2 linked regions of the Homo sapiens genome follow. The protein of the gene in region 1 interacts with the protein of each later gene in a biochemical or structural test. Each region holds a gene or a part of one and is shown in the gene's direction. Other genes may lie near its edges.

Evidence for each region. Proteins that work in one complex are often made in the same cells at the same time.
Region 2: the proteins of ACSL4 (region 1) and CARM1 form a complex in vitro, tested with the Homo sapiens proteins (one study listed by BioGRID).

The regions. Positions count from the first base shown.
Region 1 is NC_000023.11:109,674,236-109,681,265, reverse strand, and holds part of ACSL4 (long-chain-fatty-acid--CoA ligase 4), read left to right. Parts: intron 1-129; coding exon 130-268; intron 269-2,850; coding exon 2,851-3,001; intron 3,002-3,154; coding exon 3,155-3,278; intron 3,279-6,792; coding exon 6,793-6,864; intron 6,865-7,030. UniProt on the Homo sapiens protein: Catalyzes the conversion of long-chain fatty acids to their active form acyl-CoA for both synthesis of cellular lipids, and degradation via beta-oxidation. Preferentially activates arachidonate and eicosapentaenoate as substrates.
Region 2 is NC_000019.10:10,902,536-10,909,565, forward strand, and holds part of CARM1 (histone-arginine methyltransferase CARM1), read left to right. Parts: intron 1-2,415; coding exon 2,416-2,541; intron 2,542-5,503; coding exon 5,504-5,610; intron 5,611-6,014; exon of another isoform or gene 6,015-6,259; intron 6,260-6,567; coding exon 6,568-6,672; intron 6,673-7,030. UniProt on the Homo sapiens protein: Methylates (mono- and asymmetric dimethylation) the guanidino nitrogens of arginyl residues in several proteins involved in DNA packaging, transcription regulation, pre-mRNA splicing, and mRNA stability.

The DNA.
Region 1 (7,030 bases):
GTAAATATGAAATTTTCTTTTAATTCATGGTTGCGTTGTCTGGCAGGACAGAAAAATATTCATTCAGTAAGTGAATTTTTGTTGCAGGCTTAAGTTTAATAGCTGTTTTTTTTTCTTTCTGCTCAACAGACTGCATTGTTAGATATCAGTTGTGTTAAACATATCATTTATGTGGACAATAAGGCTATCAATAAAGCAGAGTACCCTGAAGGATTTGAGATTCACAGCATGCAATCAGTAGAAGAGTTGGGATCTAACCCAGAAAACTGTAAGTAAAGCAGTAAAAACAATTTTATTTACCTATTCCAAGTTTGTTATTTTGGTAGGTTAGGGAAACAAATGACATGAGTAAATCCACAAAAGTTCTTTGACTGAAAAAAAAAAGTTCAAAAATCTTTAAAAACCATCAAGACCATATATGATTAAGATTTTCCCTCCATTTCTCCTCAAAAAAAATAAGTTAGTAAATTTCACTAAGTGGTTGAGATGTAATCTGTGGTTCAGACTTCATGGCAGTTGCTGCCAAATGTTTCTTCATTTTTTAAATAACCCACTATAACCTTCCAATTTGGGCCTCATAAAAGAAAAATATTTCAGGCCTTCCATTCAGTAAACTTTCTGAAATAAATGCTTAATGCTAGTTATCTTAAGGATGTTTCAGAGGATGCAAAGCTGTTTACCAAGATTAATGCTTGGATTTATTTTACCACTGAGGTGGTAGTTGGTATTTCATTTGAAACAAGTAAGTGTACCTTGTAGCAAAATGTCAGTTGGCCATCAGGGCAGAGAGTTGAGGAAATTAATACTCCATTTGAAGAGTTTTCTTATTATGTTTAATGCGATGGTCAAAATACCATACTATAATGAGAAAAGGATTCATTTTTGCAGGAGAAAATGTTGGTCGAACCTCTACTCAGCTTCTGAACATTTTACCATTAGAGAATGAGCATGCGTTTATAATAACAGGTGTTATTATACACATCTGCCATGTGTCCAGAATGGCAGAGAGTCAGATTTTACCCTGCTTGCCGGCAAACAGATGAGCCTGCAAAACTTCCTGGTGCCATAGACTTTTGGGTCTGAGATGAGGGACAGTTTTTTACTCACAACAATAGCAGTAGCCAGAGTATCATATCAGCATTTGTGTCATAAGAGAGGAACTCTGAGCTTAAAGAGCCTGAATATCTTATTATCTTATTGTACTGGACAGTAAGCATGCCTGCTGTTTGCTCTGGGGAGAGACACTATCTCTGTGCAAATATCCTTGTAAAGATAGTCTGGAACAAAGTCAATGTCTCTGCTTGCAAGATGTGCAGAACATGAGACCCATAGAGAATTGTTTTTCTACACTAGGTTGACCCTGTAAGATTGGGATAAACTTGACTGAGAAGTCCTGATTGGTAGGGATCAGTTACAGTTCTGCTGATTGACCACAAAGGGTGTTGGCAGCAAGCTAAGGGGTCAGCAGTCTTCATAATTTTGTGTGAGCAATAATGTAATAGGCCACATATCCCACTTAGTTCTACTCATGTCTGCAATAGATAGGATACATATGTTTTTGTGGTACAGACAGTTATTGTGATGCCACTTTTTTGCATATTTACTTAAAAGTGGGCAGAAGCAAAGTATCACATGTGCTTAGATTAAGAAGAATTTAGCTACTGCTGTTGCTTTGGTTAATCATCAGAGGAAATATGCAGTCCTTATTTGCTTGGTTTATAAACTATGACTATATCTTTAAAAAGCATTAAAATTAGCCAGTTTAAGTGTAACTATCTTTGTTTCAGTGGTATAGCTCACTGTTTTAAAAAAATGTTATTTTAACTGGTATATAAAAATGTAAATAATTTGTGTAAAGATTTTTAAATGTGATAATCCTGTTAAACTTGTATTTCATTCTGATGATATATATGTGGCTTCTTAGCCATTTTGGTATATTCTCGGAAGGAAAAGTGGTTACTAGGCTAGCACTATACACTGTCTTGAAAGTGGAAGCTCCAGGGTTCTGTTTAAAACTTATCACCTTCAAATGTTAGCATTGAAGTCACCTTAAAGATCAGATCCAGTGGTTTTCAATCAGGGGCATATATGAGAATCACTTGTGGAGCTTTGTTCTATCCCAGACATATTGAATCTGAATTTTCAGAAAGGGGGTTCAGAAATAATATTTTATTTAAGTTCTGCACGTGATTCTGATACCCACTAGTGGTTAGTAACCACAATCTGTCCAGCTGTCTTATTTTAGAGATGAGAAACTGAGGCCTAAGAAGTTTATACACATACTCTGTCCTCCTGATACTCCAAAGTCCCAGAAATCTTTCCACAACATTGCTCTGTATACAACACTGTGGAGAGGCAATGCACAGACAGAGATTAGGTTAAACATCCAGAAAATGGGCCAAATTGAGTCCAAAATGCTCACTGTAATCAGAATTTGATAAACATTTTTGTTTTCTAGCCCAGGCTGGAGCACAATGGTATGACCATAGCTCACCATAGCCTCAACCTGCTAGGCTCACCCAGTCCTCCTGCCTTATCTTCTTGAGTAGCAAGGACTGCAGGTGCATGCCACTGCATCCGGCTAACTTTTTTAGTTTTTGTAGCGACAGAGTCTTGCCATGTTGGCCAGGCTGGTCTCGAAATCCAGGGCTCAAGTGATCCTCCCACCTTGGCCTCTCAAAGTACTAGGATTACAGGCATGAGCCACCTCACCCAGCTCGTTTTGATGATTTAAAGCAAATACTGTCTATTGATAGCTTATCGTTATGCAAAATCTAAATATCCTATTATTCTTTAGTAATTTAACTTTTGAACTGAAGTAAATGTGATATTTTTCATTCATTCATTTAGTGGGCATTCCTCCAAGTAGACCAACGCCTTCAGACATGGCCATTGTTATGTATACTAGTGGTTCTACTGGCCGACCTAAGGGAGTGATGATGCATCATAGCAATTTGATAGCTGGAATGACAGGCCAGTGTGAAAGAATACCTGGACTGGGGTAAGATAATTCTTTAACTTTCTTCTTAGAAATCAGAGTTCATGTTCAGCATTCTCTAAACTCAATCTATATTAAAATGATAAAGCTCTTGGTATTTCTAACTTCAAATGCCTTTTCAAGAATGGTTAAAATATTTCTCTTATTTTGTTTTAGACCGAAGGACACATATATTGGCTACTTGCCTTTGGCTCATGTGCTAGAACTGACAGCAGAGATATCTTGCTTTACCTATGGCTGCAGGATTGGATATTCTTCTCCGCTTACACTCTCTGACCAGGTGACAAACTTTTCAGTATATTGGCATGATCGTATGATGCTGCATGGTTTGGCTGAGAACATATTACTAGGACTCGAGATATTTTAATTCAGCTAAAGCTTTCTCCTTGACCTCAAAATAGCTTCCATGAACAATATGTAGCTATAGGAGATTACCCTGTAGATTTGTTAGCATTGCTTTAGCTATATATTTTAAAATTATTTTTTTTTTCTTTTCTTTTGCTCTGTCACCCAGACTGGAGTGCAATGGTATGATCTTGGCTCACTGCAACCTTTGCCTCTCGGGTTCAAGCGATTCTCCTGCCTCAGCCTCTAGAGTAGCTGGGATTGCAGGCGCCCGCCACCATGCCCTGCTATTTTTTTTGTATTTTTAGTAGAGATGGGGTTTCGCCATGTTGGCCAGGCTAGTCTCGAACTCCTGACCTCCAGTGATCTGTCCGCCTCGGCCTCCCAAAGTGCTGGGATTACAGATGTGAGCCACTGTGCCCAGCCTTAAAATTATTTAAAAATGAATAATTACTTTTATCTTTTTCTACTAGATTTTTACTCTTGAGAACTACGATAGAGAATATAAATGCAATGAGCCTTTTTGACACACTACCCATGAGCATTGGTGGGTTTCTGGGAGGAGATATGTTAGGGTCTTGGCCCAGTTTTCCCGAGATTTTTCTAGAGCAGTACCGTCTGATACAGTAGCCACTAGGCAGATATTTAAATAAAAATTAAGGGCCGGGCGCGGTGGCTCATGCCTGTAATCCCAGCACTTTGGGAGGCCGAGGCGGGTGGATCACAAGGTCAGGAGATTGAGACCATCCTGGCTAACATGGTGAAACCCCGTCTCTACTAAAAAAATACAAAAGAATTAGCTGGGCGAGGTGGTGGGCGCCTGTAGTCCCAGCTACTCGGGAGGCTGAGGCAGGAGAATGGCGTGAACCTGGGAGGTGGAGCTTGCAGTGAGCCAAGATCGCGCCACTGCACTCCAGCCTGGGCGACAGAGCGAGACTCCGTCTCAAAAAAAAAAAAATTAAGTAAAATTGAAAAAAATTTTTTTATTTGCTTTAGCCACATTTCAAGCTCTCAATAGCTACGTGTGACCAACGGCTACCATATTAGGCAGCAAAGATAAAGAATATTTTTATCATCACAGAAAGTTCTATTGGTAGGGGCTGAGGCATCTCCAAAGGTAGTCTCAGCTCACCATACTAAGTTAGGATTCTTCCTTCTCTCTGTAGTTCATAGCAGAAATCCCAACAATGGGTGGGGCTAACTCATATATGTTATACCCATTTGAAATTACACACCTAATACTATTGTCCACAGTTCTGTTTTATGTCTTCTTTGGAATAGTTGCTGTAGAAAAGCTTCAACCAGGCTTAGGGGAAAAAAAAAAAGAGCCACTAAAGAAGCTGTGGGGTTCTGGATGCTGAAAGACAAAGCAAGTATAGGTAGGAATGACTTGTCTATACGTGGCTCTGCTCCTCCAACACTGGGGGCCCAGCTGTTGTTTTTCAGACCGCCCCCCACCAGGCAATGCTGCCTTTTGTTTGAGAGTCTCCATGGAGCATGTAGTTGGTAAGATACGTCCTCAGTGTTCACAGTTAGAAATTGTAATACTTTATTTGTAGAAATACCATTTTAGGGAGAGGCTAGATAGGTTGTATACTATTAAAACAAAAAAAGTTAAATAGTTTTTTTTGGACTTGAGATTCCAATCACCTTTGTGTTTTTTTTTTTTTTGATATATGACTTAAAGTGCACAAATATTAAGTGTACTGCTTGATGAGATTTAATAAGCATATACACATATAGACCTCTGTGATCATCACCGTCTAGATTAGGAAAACAAAGAACATTTTCAGCACCCGTGAATGTCCCTTGGGTCCCCTCCTGGTCATTACCACATTGGATTCTCTTTGAAGGAAGAATCCAGCCTTCTTTTAAAGTGGCTTTTTCTGTGAGAACGCATTCTGTTCCAAACAACTCCTAGCTTTGTACTTTAAGAAACACAATCTTTGTATGACAGGGTGCTGCTGTGTTTGACTATACCACTCAGCTATAAATTCACACTTAAAATCTGCTAGAATAGTAATGGTATGAATAAATACACTATCCGATTGATAGCAGAACTTGACCTGGTGAAATCAAAGTAGACCTATCAATAAGACTAAGGCTTAAACTCTAAAACAAATTTAGTAAAATCTCTGATCATTATGTTTTGTTGTCATGGGTTTTTCTTATGCTCAGAGACATTATCAAAATGTAGAAAACATTTCAGTAAACTTTGAGTATAATTTTTTTTTCCCTTTGTGAATTTGGAAGCCAGGACTAGCCGTTCTTTGATTTTTCACTGCCTTTCTGAGAACAATAGCCTCAGTGTGGGAAAGGAGGGACAGTTGGAGTCTGTTGCTGGTCTGACTTAATTCTTGCTGTCTCTTAGGCTAAGCTAGTACATTAGAAGCCTGTTCAGTAAAATTCACACCTACTTTTTAAATGAACTTTACTGTAAAGACTCTCAATCTTACTAGGAATCTAAAACACTGGAACTTGCTTCACATAGGAAATCAGAAGGATGCAGGAGACTAGAAGCACCACATTTGGAGCCAACTGATGATAGCAATATTGTCATAACCAGGATTACTATGATCACAAGAAGACAAAATAACTGATAAAATTACTAAGAGTAAAAAAAACAAAGAAGGGCTTCTTGTGGCTTCTGCTATCCTGGAACTGCTCTCTGTAGCAAGAGCTGGTCAGTAGCATGCAGAGGGCAACTCCGACCTGAAGGACATGAGAGCCCATTTTGTTTCTGCAGAGCAGCCCTCCTGTGTGTGGTGTACATGGTTTCTGTGTAGGTTTCCACTTGCAAATGTGCACATCCTTGCACATATGTAAAATGAGTTATTTTATCTCCTTTATCCATATTAAAGAAAAGTAGGAGAAAGGCAACTTAGTTCTATCGGGAGAACCATCCTCTATATGGCCATTTGTGCACATTTATGTGTATCTCTACTTTGTCCCTGGCAGTGTTCTCAGTATCTTACCAACTAGAATATTACCAAATTAGAGTTTCAGTATGATGTTAATTGATGTTCATAGTGGTGTCTTCAGGATGTGGCTTTGCCTATTGTTAATCAAAGAAAGTTAAAATCACCTTCAATTTTGTTTTAGTGTTATATCTGTCTTAATCAAGTTTTTTTGAAAATGTAGTAATAGTCTGTGCTATATTTGATAGTATGTTATTAATAAGAATGTTTGATTCATCACAATGTCATTCTCTTGTTATCCTGGATCAAGGTTTCTCCTCTAAGGAAGGTGAAATGTGCTAGAAGCAGTTATCTGTAGCACTAAAATACTTACATTTGAGACTTGTAGGTTATGATAGTTGTTAACAGATAATCACAGAGCAATAAAAGCTCAAATTCCAAGTGTAACTTCTGTATTTGTTATTAATACTTGAATTACAACATGTTTTAAGGTTGGTTTTCCTGATCATATTTATTTTTTCTTTAATATAGTCCAGCAAAATTAAAAAAGGAAGCAAAGGAGACTGTACTGTACTGAAGCCCACACTTATGGCTGCTGTTCCGGTGAGTACAGAATATGAATATGAACATAAGAGGATTGTTTATATAATTTATTGATCGTACTTGGACCTTTTAAAAAGTAATACTCTTAGATATGTCTACATTTTAAAATAATTTTACCTTGTTGAAATCACAGCAAATGTGTTCATTAAAATCTTAGGTACCATAC
Region 2 (7,030 bases), on another chromosome or scaffold:
CCTGACCTCGTGATCCACCCATCTTGCCCTCCCAAAGTGCTGGGATTACAGGCGTGAGCCACTGTGCCCAGACTTTTTTTTTTTTTTTTTGAGACATGCTCTTATTCTTGTCACCCAGGCTAGAGTGCAGCGTTGCCATCTCTGCTCACTGCAGTGTCAACTTCCTGGGCTCAGGTGATTCTCCCACCTCAGCCTCCCAAGTAATTGGGACTACAGGCGCATGCCACTACACCGACTAATATTTTTATATTTTTAGTAGAGACGGGATTTCACCATGTTGCCCAGGCTGGTCTCAAACTCCTGGGTTCTAGTAATCTGCCTGACTCCCAAAGTACTGGGATTACAGGTGTCAGCCACCATGCCTGACCCTAAAATAGTTTTTTATATATTCTGGACACTAAATACTTAACAATAGATGATTTGCAAATAGTTCTCCTAAGAGTTTTCTTGTTTTAGCTCTTATATTTAGGTCATTGCTCCATTTGAGTTCTGTTTTGTTTGTATATGGTGTGAGGTAGGGGTTTAACTTCATTCTTTTCTCTGTGGTTATCCAGTTTTCTCAACAGTGTTTGTTGAAGACACTATTCTTTCCCCATTGAATGTTCTTGGCATCCTTATCAAAAATCAATTGAGGATAAGTATAAGGGTTTATTTCTGGACTCTGATTCTGTTCCATTGATCTGTGTCTCCTTTCTTTTGCCAGTACCACTACACTGTTTTCATTACTGTACCTTCGTAGTAAAATTTGAAATTGAGACATGGGAATCCTCCAACTTCATTCTTTTTCAAGACTGTTTTGGCTATTCAGGGTGATTGAGAACACTTTGCCATATTTGCACTCATGTTGTTGTTGTTATGATGGGCTATTCAAAAGCAAGCTACTGACATCATGGGAATTTGCCATAAATACTTCCGCATATGTTTTCTAAGAAAATATGCATTTCTCTACAAAACCACAATACCATTGTCACATCCAAATAACTTAAAATTATGGAATATGTAGTCCACACTCACATTTCCCTAGTTGTCTTTTTTTTTTTTTTTAATAGGATCTCACGTCTGTTGCCTAGACTAGAGTGCAGTGGCACCATCATACCTCACTACAGCCTCAACCTCCTGGGCTCAAGCGATCCTCCCACCTCAGCCTCCCAAGTAGCTAGGACCACAGGTGTGAGCCACTCTGTCCAGCTCCCCAGTTGTCCTTTATTTATTTTTTTGAGACAAGGTCTTGCTCTGTCACCCAGGCTGGAATGCAGTGGCACAGTCATGACTCACTGTAGCCTCAGCCTCCTGAGTCCCTAAGACAACAGGCGCATGCCACCATGCCTGCCTAATTTTTAAATTTTTTTGTAGAGATGGGGTCTTGCTATGCTGCCCAGGCTGATCTCCAGCTCCTGGGTTCAAGTGATCCTCCTGCCTTGGCCTCCCAAAGTGCTGGGATTAGAGGTGTGGGCCCAGCCTCCCCAGTTGTCCTGTATAACTTTTAAAAACATTTTTCGTTTGGCTCCAGCCCAGGGTCCCACTTTGCATTGCATTGGGCACTCCCCTCTTTCTTGTCTCCTGCACTCTGGAATAGCTCCCACCGTTTTGGTCTTTCCTGACATTGGCCTGTTCAAGGAGACCAGGCTGGTTGTCCTGTAGCCTGCCCCACAACTTGTCCTTTTCTGTTGTCCCTTGAAGATGAGACTAGGGCAAACATTTTTGCCAAGAATACTACAGATGATGCACCTGTCCCACTGCAGTATGGCAGGCAGGGGCACAGTGCCTGATTGGGCTGGCCCGTTCCTGGCATCGCTAAGTTTCACCATTTGGCTGGAGTGGAGTGGCTGCAGGTTTGTGGAATGAATGACTGGTAACAGCTATCATGATGGGTACAGGGAGACAGTGTCCTAATTCACTAGACCACTGCCCCGCCATTAGCCCCATCTGATGGTGAGAACCCCAGTTCCAGAGAGGCTGAGGGACATGCCTGTGTCACAGTGAACAAATGGCATGGATGGGGTGTGAACCCAGCGGTCTGACTCCACTGGCCACATGCAGTCACTGCTCTGCGCCCATCCAAGAACAGAAGGGCTCAGCCGAGCAGGGCAGAGGCAGCTCCAGCTCTGAGTTCCTGTGGGCCAGCACCATGCCTTGTGGCCCTGTCTGCCCACCTCAGCCTTCACCATGCCCGTCTCAGCCCTGATCATCCTGAGGACACAGGCTGTGTTCCTGCTGTCTGATCAGTCGCTCCCTTGTCTTCCATGTGGGCTGGGCAGTCAGGGCACCCGGCAATGCTGCCAGGGTGGTTTTGTGGCACTCTGGAAGAATCTGGGGGCACCAAGGGGAGGCAGCAGGAGGGCGACAGGGACCCAGGCTCAAAAGAAGGCAGCTGACAGGGCTGCACCGCTCACGCCAGCCTGTCTTCTCTCGTAGATGAAGATGTGTGTGTCTTTAAGTGCTCAGTGTCCCGAGAGACAGAGTGCAGCCGTGTGGGCAAGCAGTCCTTCATCATCACCCTGGGCTGCAACAGCGTCCTCATCCAGTTCGCCACACCCAACGGTACGTGGCCCTCCTTCCATTCCGGTGACACCAGCCCAAAGCGCCCAGAGCCCTGGTGGGCAGGGGCGTAGAGCCTGGCTGAGGGGTGGCCCGTGCATCCTTAAGAAGGCTCCACTGCCCTCAAAACCACATTCCCACATGCAGGTATGCCCAGAATACACTCTGGCCTGGGCAGACCCTGGATCCCAGACCCTCCCTCACCGGCTCCTCCGGGTCTTTTGGGGCTTGGCTTCTATGTCCCCACCTCCAAGAGGCCCATCCTGACCACCTGGGACCAGTCTTTCTGGCAGTGGCCAGCCCTGGGCCAGCTGTGACTGGGCCAGCTGTGGATGGAGTGAGGCGAGGTCCTAGAGGCAGGAAGAGTTTGCTCAGGGCGCAGAGAAGCCACCAGAAGGGCTTAACCAACCCACCTTGGGGGCACAGGTGGACACAAGATTCCTGACTAGGGGTGGGAGAACCCCAGGTGGATGCAGCCAGGGTAGCAGAGAGGTGTCCAGGAATGCCCAGGGCTGGAGATGGTCTGAAGGTCCCACCGCAGGCTTGGTTACCAGAGACCTGAAGTGAGTCCAGTGGTTGACACAGGTGCTGGTGCGAGGACAGCTGGAGGTGGAGAGGCTGCGTGCCCATGAGCCACTGCCGGCCTCCCCCTTGTCTCAAGGTAGCTGTGCAGTGACCCAGATGTACCTTGGGCAGCCTGAGCCCTCGGGGCCAGCTGTGTGAAGCTGCCATGCCTGGCTAATTTTTTGTAGAGATGGGTTTTCACTGTGTTGCCCAGGCTGGTCTTGAACTCCTGGCCTCAAGTGAGCCACCTGCCTCAGCCTCCCAAAGTGCTGGGATTACAGATGTGAGCCACCGTGCCCGGCCCCTTTTTTTTTTTTTTTTTTTTTTTTGAGAAAGAGTGTCACTCTGTTGCCCAGGCTGGAGTTCAGTGGTGCTATCTTAGCTCACTGCAACCTCCACCTCCCGGGTTCAAGGCGATTCTTATGCCTCAGCCTCCCGCGTAGCTGGGACTACACGTGTGTGCCACCGTGCCTGGCTAATTTTTGTGTTTTTAATATAGTAGACATGGAGTTTTTCATATTGCCCAGGCTGGTCTCAAACTCCTGGCCTCAAGTGATCCACCCGCCTCAGCCTCCCAACGTGCTGGGATTACAGGCATGAGCCACTGCACCCGGCCGTTCCCACTCTTAAGACTATTTGTATTTTAATATTTTTTATTTCAGTTCTGTCAGTTTTTAAAAGTTGTGCTAAAATCTACATAACAAAATGTGATCATTTTAACCCTTTTGAAGTGTGTAGGTTGGTAGCAAGCAGCACATTAACATTGTTGTGCAACTGTCACTACCGCCCATCTCCAGAACTTGCTCATCCCGAACTGTGTCTTTTCATTGTTTTTGAGACGGAGTCTCGCTCTGTCACCCAGGCTGGAGTGCTGGAGTGCAGTGGCGCGATCTCGGCTCACCGCAACCTCCATCTCCCAGGTTCAAGCGATTCTCCTGCCTCAGCGCCCTGAGTAGCCGGGATTACAGGCACGTGCCACTGTACCCAGATAATTTTTTGTATTTTTAGTAGAGACGGGGGTTTCACCATGTTGGCCAGGCTGGTCTTGAACTCCTGACCTCAGGTAATCCGCCTGCCTCCGCCTCCCAAAGTGCTAGGATTACATGCGTGAGCAACCATGCCTGACCGTGTCTTTTAATTTTTAAAGAGATTGTCTTTTAAATATTGTTTTGTTTTTTACTTGATATAATTTAGTGGCTATTATTCTATGTTAATAAATATAGCTTTATTTTATTTTATTTTATTTTATTTTATTTTATTTTATTTTATTTTATTTTATTTTATTTTGAGACAGAGTCTCACTCTGTTGCCCAGGCTGGAGTGCAGTCACACAATCTTGGCTCACTGCAACCTCCACCTCCCGGGTTCAAGTGATTCTCCCACCTCAGCCTCCTGAGTAGCTGGGATTACAGGTGCCCGCCACCACCCCTGGCTAATTTCTGTATTTTTAATAGAGACAGGGTTTCACCATGTTGGCCAGGCTGGTCTCGAACTCCTGACCTCAAGTGATCCACTCGCCTCAGCCTCCCAAAGTGCTAGGATTACAGGCATAAGCCACCGTGCCCGGCTTATTATTTCTTGTAGAGACAGGGTCTTGCTATGTTGCCCAGGCTGGCCTCTTAAACTGGGCTCAAGCAGTCCACCCGCCTCAGCCTCCCAATGTGCTGGGATTACAGTTGAGAACCACTGTCCCCAGCCAAATAGATAGAGCCTGCTTTAAAGGGCCACATACCATTGCATCTCTGGGAAGGGTGGTGATTGGTGATTCTCTGCCATGCTTTTCTTAATTTTTTATTTCATGTTTTTGTTTTTGTTTTTTAACGAGGCAGGGTCTTGTTATGTTGCTCAGGCTGGTCTGGAACTCCTGACAGCTGATCTGCCCACCTCAGCCTCCCACCTCAGCCTCCCAAAGTGCTGGGATTACAGGCATGAGCCACTGCACCTGGCCTCTACTGTGCTTTTCTGTGCCCCTGGCATTTGTCCAGTCCCCTCTTACTGGACATTGCAGTGTCTGCTGCCCCCACACAGATGCTGCCCTGAGCTTCTGGGTGGACTTGGGCTTATTTGCCAGAGCTTTGACTCCTGGGCCGGTGGGCGTGTGCTTGAGAGAGCTTCACCAAGCTGCCCTTTGGTGAGGAATCCCCAGGCCCACTCCCACCAGACAGCAGCCCCACATGCAGGCTACCTGCCCTCTTCTCATGTCAGTCACCACAGTGCAGGCATGGCTGCCCTTCATCTTTTCTTTGAACTTTGAAAATTGTTTTTCGGGGAAGAGAAATCACCAGCCCTGTATGTTCAAGGGAGAAACGTCAGGACATACGGCCATCCAGAACCTTCCCTCCCAGATGGCCACATGCTGGGTTGCTGACCGCCCCCCGGTGACTTGGCTTCCCTGTTCCAGATTTCTGTTCCTTCTACAACATCCTGAAAACCTGCCGGGGCCACACCCTGGAGCGGTCTGTGTTCAGCGAGCGGACGGAGGAGTCTTCTGCCGTGCAGTACTTCCAGGTGGGTTGTACTCCCCCTCAGCCAGGCCGCCTCCCCCCGGCAGCCCCCCTGCCACTCACCCGCAGGAGGCCACACAGCACAGGGAAGGCCCACCCAAGTTCCCGTCCTGGCTCTGTCCCTTACTGGCCATGTAGCCTTGGGCAGGTTTCCTCTGCTGGCTGGGCCTCAGTTTCCTCATCTGTGAAGCGGAGATGCAGGTGCCTGCCTGAGAGGGTTGCTGGAAGGATCTGAGCACAGGTGGAGCTCAGGGCCACAGGCGTTGTGAATAACGGTAGAGCAGTTACAATGCCCTGAGCGCTCCCTGCATGCCAGGCCCTGGTCTAAGCGCTGTCACATGCACAGAAGCACTTGGACCCTCCCAACAACGCTAGGAGGTAAGTGCTATTATTGTCCCCATTTTACAGATGAGAAAACTGAGGCTCAGAGAGGTTAAGTGACTTGCTCCAAGTCACACAGCTATATGCAACAGAGCCAAGATGGGAAGCCAGGTCTGCCTGATGCCAAAGTCTGTGCCCCTGCCCAGGTGCCACGCTGCCTCCCGATCGCCCGTTGTCTTACAGAGAGACACCACACCTCACCTGCCTGGCGCTCTGAGTTCTAGGGCTCTGTTCGATCTGCTTCTCTTCTTCTTTGGGGCCCTCAAGATGAGGCAGGTGGCCCCCGATGCCAGAACCCTGCCTGTGGCAAATCTTGAGTTCTCCTGGGCGGCTTCCAGGTCCAGGCGGCATCAGCTGTTGCCATCGGCTGCAGTGATAGTGGCGGTGTCCTCCTGGGGGCTGCCCTCCGGCTTCCTGCTCCCTCTCCTGGAGCTGCTAGTGGGGCCCAGGCAGAGGGTGCACGACCTCCCGAGGGAGGTTTGTGCCCTAGATGGCCCCTTGCTCTATCACAGGGCTGGCCAGGGCCTTGGCTGCCTCGTGCCACCATGTGCCCCGTGCCATCGGTATGTCTCTGTTCCAGTTTTATGGCTACCTGTCCCAGCAGCAGAACATGATGCAGGACTACGTGCGGACAGGCACCTACCAGCGCGCCATCCTGCAAAACCACACCGACTTCAAGGACAAGGTGAGTGGCCCGCGCATGTGCCCACCTCTCTGCTTCTGTCTCGGTTTTTTTTTTCTTTGCTCATTGATTTTATCTTTAATTTTCTCAGATTAGAAATGCATTTATCTCAGTTACTGCAGAGGCTGAGGCAGGAGGATCGCTTCAGTCCATGAGTTTGAGGCTGCAGTAAGCTATGATTCTGCCACTGCACTCCAGCCTGGGCGACAGAGCGAGACTCTTGTCTCTTAAAAAAAAACAAATAAACAAGGCCAGGCGCGGTGGCTCACGCCTGTAATCCCAGCACTTTGGGACGCCCAGGCGGGCGGGTCACAAGGTCAGGAGATCGAGACCATCCTGGCTAACACGATGAAACCCCGTC